Homo sapiens: one gene and its partners. The protein of the gene in region 1 interacts with the protein of each later gene in a biochemical or structural test. Each region holds a gene or a part of one and is shown in the gene's direction. Other genes may lie near its edges.

Region 1 (3,745 bases):
ACAGAAAAACCCAAGATGAAGTCTTGGGTCACTCTGAGGGGACTTGGGATCAGGGATCCCTTAGTAGGTTTTCCTGGCTCAGGGCCTTCATATCTTGGCCTGTTTCAGGTCGGGAAGATGACCCAGAGCTGGTGGGTGCCTGGGGCCACAGAGTTCCCCCCACTCCATAACCAGTTATGCACAGGCCCTTCCCACTGCCCCTGCTGATTGAGGGGCTGCCGCCTCTGGCAGAGCAACGGGGAGCTGAGCATGGCCACCAGAGGGCAGCTGGGACCGCCACAGCAGGCAAGACCGGCTCCACCCAGCTTCCTGCGGCAGACCAGGACCCTTCCCCAGACACCTGGCTTGGATGACCGGAGCTCGGCCTCCAAGCCGCCTATTGAGGGCGTGGAGTTGGAAAGGAGCCAAGCAAGGCCCCTCGGTACCCCCAACATGCTTGGTGCAGGCAGAAGGAAGCCTGAAGGCCAGCTGGTGGGTGACCACACACAGGCTCAGCAGGGACAGTGAAGGACTAGCCCTGTGCCTGCGTAGCCCCAAAAGTGCAGTGTCCTTCAAGTGTGTGCCCAGGGGCCTCCCAAGCCTTCCCAGGTGTGGTCTGTGCCTCAATGTCCACAGCAGAAGTGGGCGTGTTCTCACTATGTGCCCAGGGTGGCAGCAGGCCTAGGAGAACACTCGGTTTTGCTGTAGTGGACAGCATTGTCATTGAGCAGCATGGACCTTCCCTGTCCACTGGCCACGGGGCACTCCATTCACCTGCCTGCATTGGCTGTTGCCAGGGCATGTTCTCAGCTACCTACAGTCAGTGTCACCTCGCGCTCATAGAGCAGGAAGCGAGGAGACTTGGGGAGGGGGTGGCCTGCTGAGGCCACACTGCAGGGAGTGCAGAGCGAGCTCACCTGGGCCCCTCATTGCCTACCCAGCCCAGGCTGCATCCTCCATCCCAGTTCTGGGCCCAGTGTGTACCCATGGGAGCTGCCCTGTGCCGTCAGCTATCCAAAGGACTGTAGCTTGCCAATCTGGCTGTGTGGCCTGGGCCAGGCTTATGCCCCAGTGTGAGACCTCTCAGCCCTCTGGTTGGACCATGGATACCGTGCCAGAACCACAGGGCTTACTAGGGCATCAGTGGGGTGTAGCCAGGGGCTGACAGAGCCCCATGGCCAGCCATCGGGTCTGGACAGTTTGGTGGGGAGACCCAGTGTGGGGGTCCCATGGCATGGGTAGGCCCAGGCCATCCTCACTGGGAAAAGGGCCCAATAAAGGGCGTGGTCATTCCCCCGCTTTGAGGCGGCTGGTACTGGGTCCTTGGCCAGGCAGGTGACCCCAGAGCTTGCAGAGCACTCAGGGGGGCTCCCCAAGGTGAGCACCTCCCCACCTTCCCATATGATCCTATCACTAGTTCTGCCTTCACATCACTGTCCTGTCTGTCGTCCCTCTGTCCGTCCACTGCCCAGAGCTCCCTTAGGTTGTCCACAGATGCTCTGCTCTGCCCCTGCCTGTACGATGCTGATGTGCCTAGTGCACCCTTAGGAAGGATACCCACAGCTCTGGCTGCTCCTACCACTCAGCCTCCTGTGGTGCTGCTATCCTCTGCTCCCACCCATCTCCTGGGGGAAGCCCTCTCCAATGCCTCACTTGGACCCCTTCCCAGGGTCTGCTATTGGCTCTACCATATGGTTGCAGGTTCTTGGCCTGGCTGGACCCCATGAGGTAGGAGGCCCATGAGGAAGGACCCATGTTCTCCTTTGGTCACACTTCCCCAACTGGGTGGGGGGGGGGGACTTTGGGAGGCCTGGAGGCAGGAAGACCTGAGTTAAATCCTGGCCCAGCCCTTGTCTGGCTGGGACCCAGTTTCTCCATGTGTAAAATGGGGTATATAGCCAACCTGAGACACCTGGTAGAGTCAGTGAGATGACGGCTCACAGCCAGTGTGTCTCGGTTCTGTGGCACATGGTGACTCCGGGGGAGAGGCTGGTGCTTATCAGGGATAAAAAAAAAAAGTCACATGGTTCTCTGTGGTACAAAACCTATGTGAACACTTAAGCTAAAACCAGAGGTTTCCTAGAAATGTCACACTCAGAGCAAAAGCTGGTTCCTAAGCCTCAGACCTTGGAGTAGGAGCAGCATCTCCTCTTCCTCGGGGCGCAGTGCTGGTGGATGGGCTCCCAACCGGGCCTGCCCATCTCAGGTGCACACACACACTCATATTCACATGCACGCACATGCATATGCACATGTGCCTGGCTTGGTCCCCAGTTCTTCCCTGCCTCAGGCCCTGCATCCCACCCCCCATGATCCCACCCTGAGGCGTAGCCAGTCGCCCACCCTCACTTGGACCCCTTCCCATGATGAAGAGGCTGTCGTGAGACGGGGAAACACACCGTTGGGGCACCAGAATGGACCATGACCACAAAGGACTATTGGGCGGGGCCTCAGAACAATCTAGAAAACACCGTAGAGGCGGGGGAGAGAGCTCTCATTACCGATGTCCCCCAGAGACAGCCTCCCATCCGAGGCCCAGCCCTTCCCTGTCTGTCTGCAGTGTCCTGTTTTTCATTTTTATGACATGAACACTCTGGCAATATCCCCGGGCCTAGATATAAGGAGAGGGAATGTGTCCCCGGGGCCATTAGCTGAGACAGGAAGCCGCAGGGTCCTCCCCTGAGGAAGGCTGAAAGCTGTGTGAGTACAGGCACCCCCTTGTCTCCTGCTCCAGCCCATAAGCCTCAGCTCCCCAGGCTTGAGTGCCAGGTCCCCCATCCCAGACAAATGGTTATTCACACCTGGCCACAGCTCCAGGGCCAGGAACCTGCCTGCTTCCCCGCCCTCCCTGTACTGGAGACTGTTGGGGGCAGCTGCCTGCCTGGGAGGGCCCAGGATCTATGTTGGCCTCAGGGAACCTCAGGAGAGGCACGTGGCCTCGCCCACAAGGCGGGAGCGGACTCTAGGGAGGTGGAGCAGATGTCTTATGGGGCTGTGAGCACCTGCGTGGGGCAACAGGACCCTGAGCCTGGCTACCCTGGGGTGGGAATACTGCTGTGCTGTGTGTGATGGGGAAGACGTCATTATCAGTCCACATCTCTGAAGGATCACGTTTCTGAAGGATGGTCAACAGCATTAGACATGCTGACAAGGAACCGTGGCAGCCCAGTGTCACCTACAGTCCTGGACATGTGGGGGCAAGAAGGTACACATGAGTGTGTGGTTATGAGTCAGGAGCACCACGGGATGACCTTCAGATCAGGCATGACAAGGTCCTGCTTAGAGGACGGTCTGGGCTTGTGTACCTTTATCCGGCAGGGACCTACCCAGCTGGATTGACCTCACTCATGCCCTCTGGTTTCCCTGCAGGAGCCAGAGCCTGCAGGGTGGGTGTCGGGACATGCTGATCTTCCCTCAAGACAGGTGAGTGGCCTGGGTTTAGCTTGGGGACATCCTCTCCCACATAGGACAGCAGAGTGTTCTGGTGGGCCTGGCGGGTGGGGGTGACAGGGATGGACTGGCCCTGGACACTGTGTGCTCCTGGTCCTTCTCACCCTGGGTAGGCACAGCCCCTGGGCTGGACAGGGTGGATGTGAGGGCCTCCTGCCACCAGCTTGGGTTTGTTACTGGCCTGAATATGGGCAGCAGCCACTGGTTTGATGTCTGGCTTTAGGGACAAGCCTGTTTGGGGCTGGCTGACGAGGTTGCTGGTCAGTGTTGGTTTGGACATTCACTGGGTCTGCTCTTCACCTGCCTGAGCTAGGAT
Region 2 (3,745 bases), on another chromosome or scaffold:
TCGCTCCGCATTACGCTCCTTCTCTGGGTAAAACAAGGCCGTCTTTTCTGTGAACATATTTAAAGCAAGAACTGCAAAAACTGTGCAATGTTATGGTTGAGGCTTTCTATTTGCCATATGTGTTGACAGAATGCTTAAGAGTCTCTCTCCGCAATAAACGCGAACCCTGCCAGGCTGAATTATTAGGGCCAGCGCAATTCAACGACTGCACCACCACCGAACCGCTGGGGTTGGAAGCCTGCGTCGCATCGGAGCGTACCCATGTTTCTTCTAACAAAGGCACGATCTTGAGGCCATTTCGCGGGCCCTTTTCCCACTCCCAGCGCCAGCTTTGTCTCCCCGCCGGTATGAGGCTGAGACTTGGAGGAGGCTGAGCTGCGCCGCTGGGGAACAAGCTCGAAGGGCGGGCGTGGGAAGCTGCACCGCGCTGCCGCTGTGGTTTCCTGCGACCTGACCGTGCCATTAGAGGAAGTTGGAGTGCTGCAGCTGCAAGAGATACCTGCTGCCTTCAAATCAGGGCTGGACTCCAACAACCCCTGTGCACCGATTACTGTCGTACAAAGAAACTCCATCGGCCGGCGCGGCGGAGGCCTGTGGGCTCTCTATCTCTCTGGCTGGGCGCTGGGCCGCGAGCAGACAGCAGGGTCGGCGTTGCCAGCGTTCCCCACCCTGGGGGGCTCGGGAGTCCGGGAGTGCGGGGTCGGGGAGCGGGCAGGGAGCAGCGGGCAGGCCTCGAGGGGCCTGGGCCAGAGTGGGCCTCACGGCGCGCCTTGCACGCGAACCCACGGCCGCCGGCTGCCCCTCCCCCGGCCCCCGGCCCGCTGCCCCCAGCCGCCGACGTCGGCCCGCACCGCCCCCGCGCGCTGACTGGCCCGCGCAGGCCTCCTGCCCGGCTGTTGGCGGTTGGGGCGAAGCCGGCGGGAGGCCGCCCCGCCCCCGCCCCCGCCGCAGAGTCGCGGCGCGCAGCCTCTTCACCCGTCGCGGCCGGGGCGGTGGCGCTGTTGCCGCCGCGGCCTGTGAGGCAGTAACTCCCCTCCGCCCCTGCCCCATTCCTCCTCCTTTCTCTCCGCTCCCTCCGTCCTCCCTCCCCTCGCCGTCTCTCGCTCGAGTGAATGTGGCGCGGCGGCGCGGGACGCAGTCTCGGCCCCTGCCGCGGCCCCGCAAGCTCGTGAGGAGACGGAGCTGCCTCCTGCTCCCGCCCCCTGCGCGTCTCGGGGAGCCACCGCCGCTGGCGAAGGAGAACAAGCAGGGCAGCGGAGGGACGGTGGCGGGAAAACGGGAGAGGGAGGAGAAGAGGGTTCGAGGGCGAGTAGGGAAAGCGGGGAGGGACGGACGGAAGGACGGACGGCCCGACGGACGGCCCGGGGAGGGGGCCGCTATTGAGCCTGCCCGACTCCTCGGCTCCGGCTCCGGGTGGCGGCGGCAGCGGCGTCGCGGACGAAGGGCGCGGCAAGCGCTATCGAGACAATAACCCTGCCGCCCGGCTCTGGGGGCAACGGAGAGGAAGCGGTGGCGGCCTAGCGCGGCCGAGGCTCGCCGAGCGCCCGGGCAGCGTCCTCGCCCCCGCCGGCCGGGTGCTGCTGCCGTCCGGTGTGCCGGGCGCGCCGGTTGCCCGGAACCCGAGGCTCCCGGCGGCCGTCCCCTCCCCTCCCCCTCTCCGGTGCGCGCGGAGCTGGTTTTCCGGGTTCCCCTGGACGGAGCTGGATCCTGCTTCTCGCCAAGGCAGGAAGTGAGTTTCGCACTGCAATTCCGGGCGGTGTCACGAGTGAAAAGTTTTGTTTTTTTTTTTTTCGGCGGAGATCCTCGTTGGGGCTGGGAAACTCCTGCAAAACTCGAGACCAGGAAGCCAGCCCGCACCCCAACCCCCACCAAAGCCACCTACTCTTCTTCTGTGGGAGGCCAGTCCACATCCGCTCTCACCCGAGAGAGATATTCAGCTGGATCCAAAGTGACTGATGAAGGGAAGGAAATCATGTCAAGCGAAGCCTTGAAAAAGCTGCCCTGAGACGGTGTCCCGCCGAAAGGTAATTTTCACGAAAAGTGTCTCTGAGTCACAAAGTTCATGGGACTTTGTGACTCGGAAAAGAGATGATTCTTTAGTGTTTTTCACTCTTCTCCAAGTTGCCCTAAACCCTCCTTTTCTCATATCGAAGCGGTTAATAATTGAGGGGCTAAATAATCGAACTGCACCCCACCGCGTCCCTTCTCCCCCCTGCCCCCCCCACCATCTGGACTTTGAATTTTTTGGAAGAGGTTGTAAGAATGCGGTGGGACGAAAAGTTTTTAGTAATCCGAAGAACGATTGCCTTTGTTCAGCACAGGGGCCAGAAGTTTTGGCTTTCTGGAACGTATAGAGTGTATATTAAGTTGCTCAGCCAGGCACCTTCTGTTTGGGAAGAAAGTTTGGTCGCTGCAGTGAGTGATTTGCTGTTATTGAGATGGCTGCCGCGTTTGTTTATACTCATACCGATTATATTGGCGCTTGCGTTAATTGTATATAGAGGTATTTATTTTTATTTTTTTATTTCCAACCCTGATCAGTATATTTAGTTAGATTTTAGAAACCAAAAAATCTTGCCATTCTTAGTTGTTTTTCAGGGTGAGTAATATATTTCTTTAGTTGTGTGTAGTGTGTGTTTTTCAGACGTTTAGCGCCGTATAACTTGTTTAATTAATTGAAAGCAAGGATCGACTAGGCTTTTCTTGTAACTGATCCATTACGAAGAAAAAAGGAGTAAGGACTAAGAATAGGGAGAGATAATTAAACAACATTAACAACCTGTAAGACGTTTAATAGGACTTCTGTACAGTTCAGAACAGACGATGGGAGGGGAAGTAAAACGCTTAAAACGATTTTCAAGGGAATCACAGTGATTGTGATAAAAAGCTGTGCTTTTCGAGTAGTATGGTCTTTACATTTTTGTGTTGTCCCAAATGTTTTTGGTCGGTTCTGCATAAATAGTGATAGGTTCTGCCTACATCTGTGGGGGCAGGATTCATGAAGCATGGCAGACATTCCACCAGTCAGAGCTATGAACACTTCTGAACCAATGGGGACTAGTTTTGATAGCAGTAAACCCAAAGTTTTTTTCAGTGGTGTTTTAGTCTTTTTCTGTTTACTTTTTTTCCCGGTATTTTTGCGGTACAGGGAGGTGAAATACAATACTGTACTTTTGAATATATATTGAATAAATTTGGTAATCCTGTTGGTAGGTATATCCTAAATATATATTGATGTTTAGATTGCCTATGCTGTCTCACGTAATGACCGGAAACCCGAGGAGAGAGTTGATTTTCTTTAGTTCAAAGAGAAAAAATAAGTTTTAAAGATCAGGATCAAATTATTTCACAATTTGTTCTTTGCTACTTCAGCTTCATTAAGTACATCTCCAAAGGCAGTCCTTTATTTATTACTGTAGTTTTGATTTTTTTTTTCCTCCCCGGGGCATGGTCTCAGGAGATTCTTTTTTTTTTTCATTGTTGGTAAGATTTGTGAACCATGGAATAATTCTTGTTAAGTCAAACTAGCTTTATCAAAGAATTTAAAGTGCATAACTCATCTACTTTATGATTTTGGAACGTATCATTAGGCTGCAAAAGAGGTTATTCTTGGGCATCTGAAAGAGGTGAACAAAATAAATGGCATTGAACTTCAGTTTCCTTATATGGCTTATACTTGGCTTCAAAAGCAACAAAACCTTAATAGAGCAAGTCCCTTACAGAGAATTATCGCTTTATGAAGATG
Region 3 (3,745 bases), on another chromosome or scaffold:
AGGCCAAGGCAGGCAGATCATGAGGTCAAGAGATCGAGACCATCCTGGCTAACATGGTGAAACCCCGTCTCTACTAAAAAATACAAAAGTTAGCTGGGCATTCTAGCGTGCGCCTGTAGTCCCAGCTACTCAGGAGGCTGAGGCAGGAGAATCGCTGGAACCCGGGAGGCGAAGGTTGAAGTGAGCTGAGTCCTCGCCACTGCACTCCAGCCTGGTGACAGAGTGAGACTCTGTCTCAAAAAAAAAAACAGAAGAAGAAAGAAGAAGAGGAGGAGGAAGAGGAGGAGAAGAAGAAAGAAGAAGAAGAAAAAAAAGGGCAGTGGGAGCAAGCCCTAGAGCCCAGAAAACCAGAACCCCGTCTGCACTCCCTTCAGGCGCCTGCCCTCCCCCAGCCTCCCCTCCCCCAGCCTGCCCTCCCCCAGCCTGCCCTCCCCCAGCCTCCCCTCCCCCAGCCTGCCCTCCCCCAGCCTCCCCTCCCCCAGCCTGCCCTCCCCCAGCCTGCCCTCCCCCAGCCTCCCCTCCCCCAGCCTGCCCTCCCCCAGCCTGCCCTCCCCCAGCCTGCCCTCCCCAAGCCTCCCCTCCCCCAGCCTGCCCTCTCCCAGCCTGCCCTCTCCCAGCCTGTCCTCCCCCAGCCTGCCCTCTCCAAAATGTCATTTTGGGCTGGGCACAACGGCTCATGCTTGTAATCCGAGCACTTTGGGAGGCCGAGGCGAGTGGATCACCTGAGGTCAGGAGTTTGAGAACAGTCTGGCCAACATGGCAAAACCCCATCTCTACTAAAAATACAAAAAATTAGCCGGGTGTGGTGGCACGCGCCTGTAATCCCAGCTAGTTGGGAGGCTGAGGCAGGAGAATCACTTGAACCCAGGAAGTGGAGGTTGCAGTGAGCCAAGATCACACCACTGCACTCCAGCCTGGGCAACAGAGCGAGATGCCATCTCAAAAGGTAAAAAAAAAGAAAAGTAACTTTGTACTTGATGTGGGGAAAGGACGCTTCCTGCCTTTGCCTCTGCAGGAAGCAAAATTTCCTTTTATTTGCCCCAAATCCTCCTTTAGACTTTGAGAACCAGTCCTTGTATCCCTTACATCAAAAGTTATTAGAGAGTATTTCTCACTTGGAAACTGTAATTGTGCCCATTCTCCGAAAGGATGGGAGGCAGTTTAAAATGTCATGTGCACAGGGGAATTAAACTTCAGGAGGAGGCCAGGCGCAGTGGCTCACCCCTGTAATCCCAGCACTTTGGGAGGCCGAGGCGTATCACCTGAGGTCAGGAGTTTGAGACCAGCCTGGCTAACATGATGAAACCTCATTTCTACTAAAAATACAAAAAATTCGCTGGGCGTGGTGACGTGCACCTGTAATCCCAGCTACTTGGGAGGCTGAGGCAGGAGAATCGCTTGAACCCAGGAGGCAGAGGTTGCAGTGAGCTGAGATGTCGCCATTGGACTCCAGCCTGGGCAACAAGAGTGAAACTCTATCTCAAAAAAAAAAACAAAAAACAAAAACATAACTTCAGGAGGAACAAAGACCACAGAGAGACAGGGAGAGAGATTAGGAACCCTCTGAGAGCCTTACTTTAGTCACACGTGAAGCTGTGAGCTTCCTGGCTGCCAAGGCAAGCAGGGAAAGTGGCACCTGCCCTGTCTGCTAAGGGAAGGTGGCTCCCGTTCAGGGACGTCCTCAGTCACTGTGACAGATGCCCCACCCTGTGCTGTTTCTCGCCTGTTTAAGCTGGTGTTTCCAGCTGGAGACAAAGTCTGAACGTGCTGTCTCTTTCGCATGGCCCTAACGGGAGCCACAGAAATTTGGGGGCCACAGAGCCAGCCCTTGCTCTATGTTTGAACAGCTAAGAGCGTTTGCCCTGGACCTGGGAGGATCCACCCTGGAGGACCCCACGGACCTGGAGATTGTAGTTGTGGATCAGAATGACAACCGGCCAGCCTTCCTGCAGGAGGCGTTCACTGGCCGCGTGCTGGAGGGTGCAGTCCCAGGTGAGACAGGACCACAGCCCCGGGCCGGGAGGGGCTGCAAGGAAGGGCTCTGTGAAGTCCAGGACTTCCCTTAAGCAAGAATTCCAGAGGCCCCTCAGAGTCTAAAAATAAGTAAACAAGTCTCCGAGGCAGGTCCGTTTCCACAGGTCAACTCCTGCCACTTCCCATTCCAACATAAATTTCAAACCCAAAAATCTGAGCCTGGGAGTGGAGGTTTTTCAGGGGTCTTGTTCTCCCCCAAAAGCAAATGACTTCTCCCTCCTGCTGAGGGGGCCATCTGGAGCCAGGCACACTCCATCCTCACCCTGTACTCACATGGGGTCCAGAGCACCCACAGGCATCTCTAGGTTGTGATTCACCCTAAACCCAGGCTGACCTGTAAGCTCCAGCCACGGGGACTCGCTCCCACCTCCCTGGGGGCCGGTGGTAAAGACCTGGTGGAAAGGCACAGGCCCCCTCGTGTCTGAGGCTACCAAGGACTGTGGCCAGGCCTGGCCCAGGCTCAGGCTTGGAGGCTCATATCCCGCCTCAGTTTCCTTCCCGTGTCTGTGGCAGTGGCCTCCGCGCCTCGTTCTGCCCCAGGTGACAGACAGCACGTCCTAGCTCCAGCTGTCCCGGGGGGAAGTCACAGCCAGCCAGGAGCTGCTCCCCAGGGTGGCCCAAAGCCCGTCCTTCCCACCCCACCTCGGTGGCTAAGTCCACCTGAGCTGCCAGAGGGGTCAGGCCTAAATCTCAGGAGAGGGAAATGGGGGGAGGTGAAACCTGGTCCTGCCATATGTGGTCCCTCTAGCGGCACCTTCGTGAGTACCGCTTCCCACAGCAGGTGGGGCGGGGGCTCTGGCCTACACAGTCACAGTGCGCGTCCTCTGCTCGGCTGTCGTGTGTCCTGCACCCAGCCTGCCCGCGCATCCTCTGTTTTATCCTGCCCTTGCATCCTCTGTCTTATCCTGTCCGTGCGTCCTCTGTTTTATCCTTCCCCTGCGTCCTCTGCCCAGCCTGCCCGTGCGTCCTCTGTCTTATCCTGCCCGTGTGTCCTCTGTTCAGCCTGCCCATGCATCCTCTGTCACCCTGGATGCCAGCAGCTCCTGGAGGCCCCCGCTAGCTAGCCCAATCTGACCCAGCGCCCTTAGCCCCTGCACTGGGCAGGCCCAGGAGCCAGCACCTGACCCAGGTCGCATCCAATGCTCCTGTGCTCCGACCCCATAAACAGCACAAGCCGGGCAAAAGGCTTCGACCACATAGGTGGCCTGGACACAGCACGGTGGGCTTCAGGGGCAGCGGGAAGCATCTCGACCTGGGGGTTGCCGCATGCTGGCCGCCTCGGTGACGCAAACAGCAGCATGGACTGACTGCCCCATCTGGGGTCAGCCGTGCTGGAACCGGGGAGCCTGTGCACACGAGGTGCCCCCACGCCCCTCACAATGCCCCCAGCCCATCGGCCCTGTGGACGTTGGCCCTCACGCCTCCCTGTGCTTCCCAGGCACCTATGTGACCAGGGCAGAGGCCACAGATGCCGACGACCCCGAGACGGACAACGCAGCGCTGCGGTTCTCCATCCTGCAGCAGGGCAGCCCCGAGCTCTTCAGCATCGACGAGCTCACAGGAGAGATCCGCACAGTGCAAGTGGGGCTGGACCGCGAGGTGAGGTGGCGCCCCGGCAGCTCCACACCCGCACGGCCAGGGCAGCCCATCTCCTGCGGGTCCCTCTGCCCCCAGCCTGCCCACCCCAGACGCTCCTGTCCCTGCCGTCACT

What was found.
Region 2: the proteins of ARVCF (region 1) and ERBIN interact in a test that uses a peptide from one of them, tested with the Homo sapiens proteins (3 studies listed by BioGRID and IntAct, with this or other methods).
Region 3: the proteins of ARVCF (region 1) and CDH15 form a complex in vitro, tested with the Homo sapiens proteins (one study listed by BioGRID).

What each region holds. Positions count from the first base shown.
Region 1 is NC_000022.11:20,010,112-20,013,856, reverse strand, and holds part of ARVCF (splicing regulator ARVCF), read left to right. Parts: intron 1-3,348; 5' UTR 3,349-3,402; intron 3,403-3,745. UniProt on the Homo sapiens protein: Contributes to the regulation of alternative splicing of pre-mRNAs.
Region 2 is NC_000005.10:65,924,783-65,928,527, forward strand, and holds the start of ERBIN (erbin), read left to right. Parts: upstream 1-1,792; 5' UTR 1,793-2,024; intron 2,025-3,745. UniProt on the Homo sapiens protein: Acts as an adapter for the receptor ERBB2, in epithelia. By binding the unphosphorylated 'Tyr-1248' of receptor ERBB2, it may contribute to stabilize this unphosphorylated state.
Region 3 is NC_000016.10:89,181,701-89,185,445, forward strand, and holds part of CDH15 (cadherin-15 preproprotein), read left to right. Parts: intron 1-1,847; coding exon 1,848-1,992; intron 1,993-3,472; coding exon 3,473-3,633; intron 3,634-3,745. UniProt on the Homo sapiens protein: Cadherins are calcium-dependent cell adhesion proteins. They preferentially interact with themselves in a homophilic manner in connecting cells; cadherins may thus contribute to the sorting of heterogeneous cell types.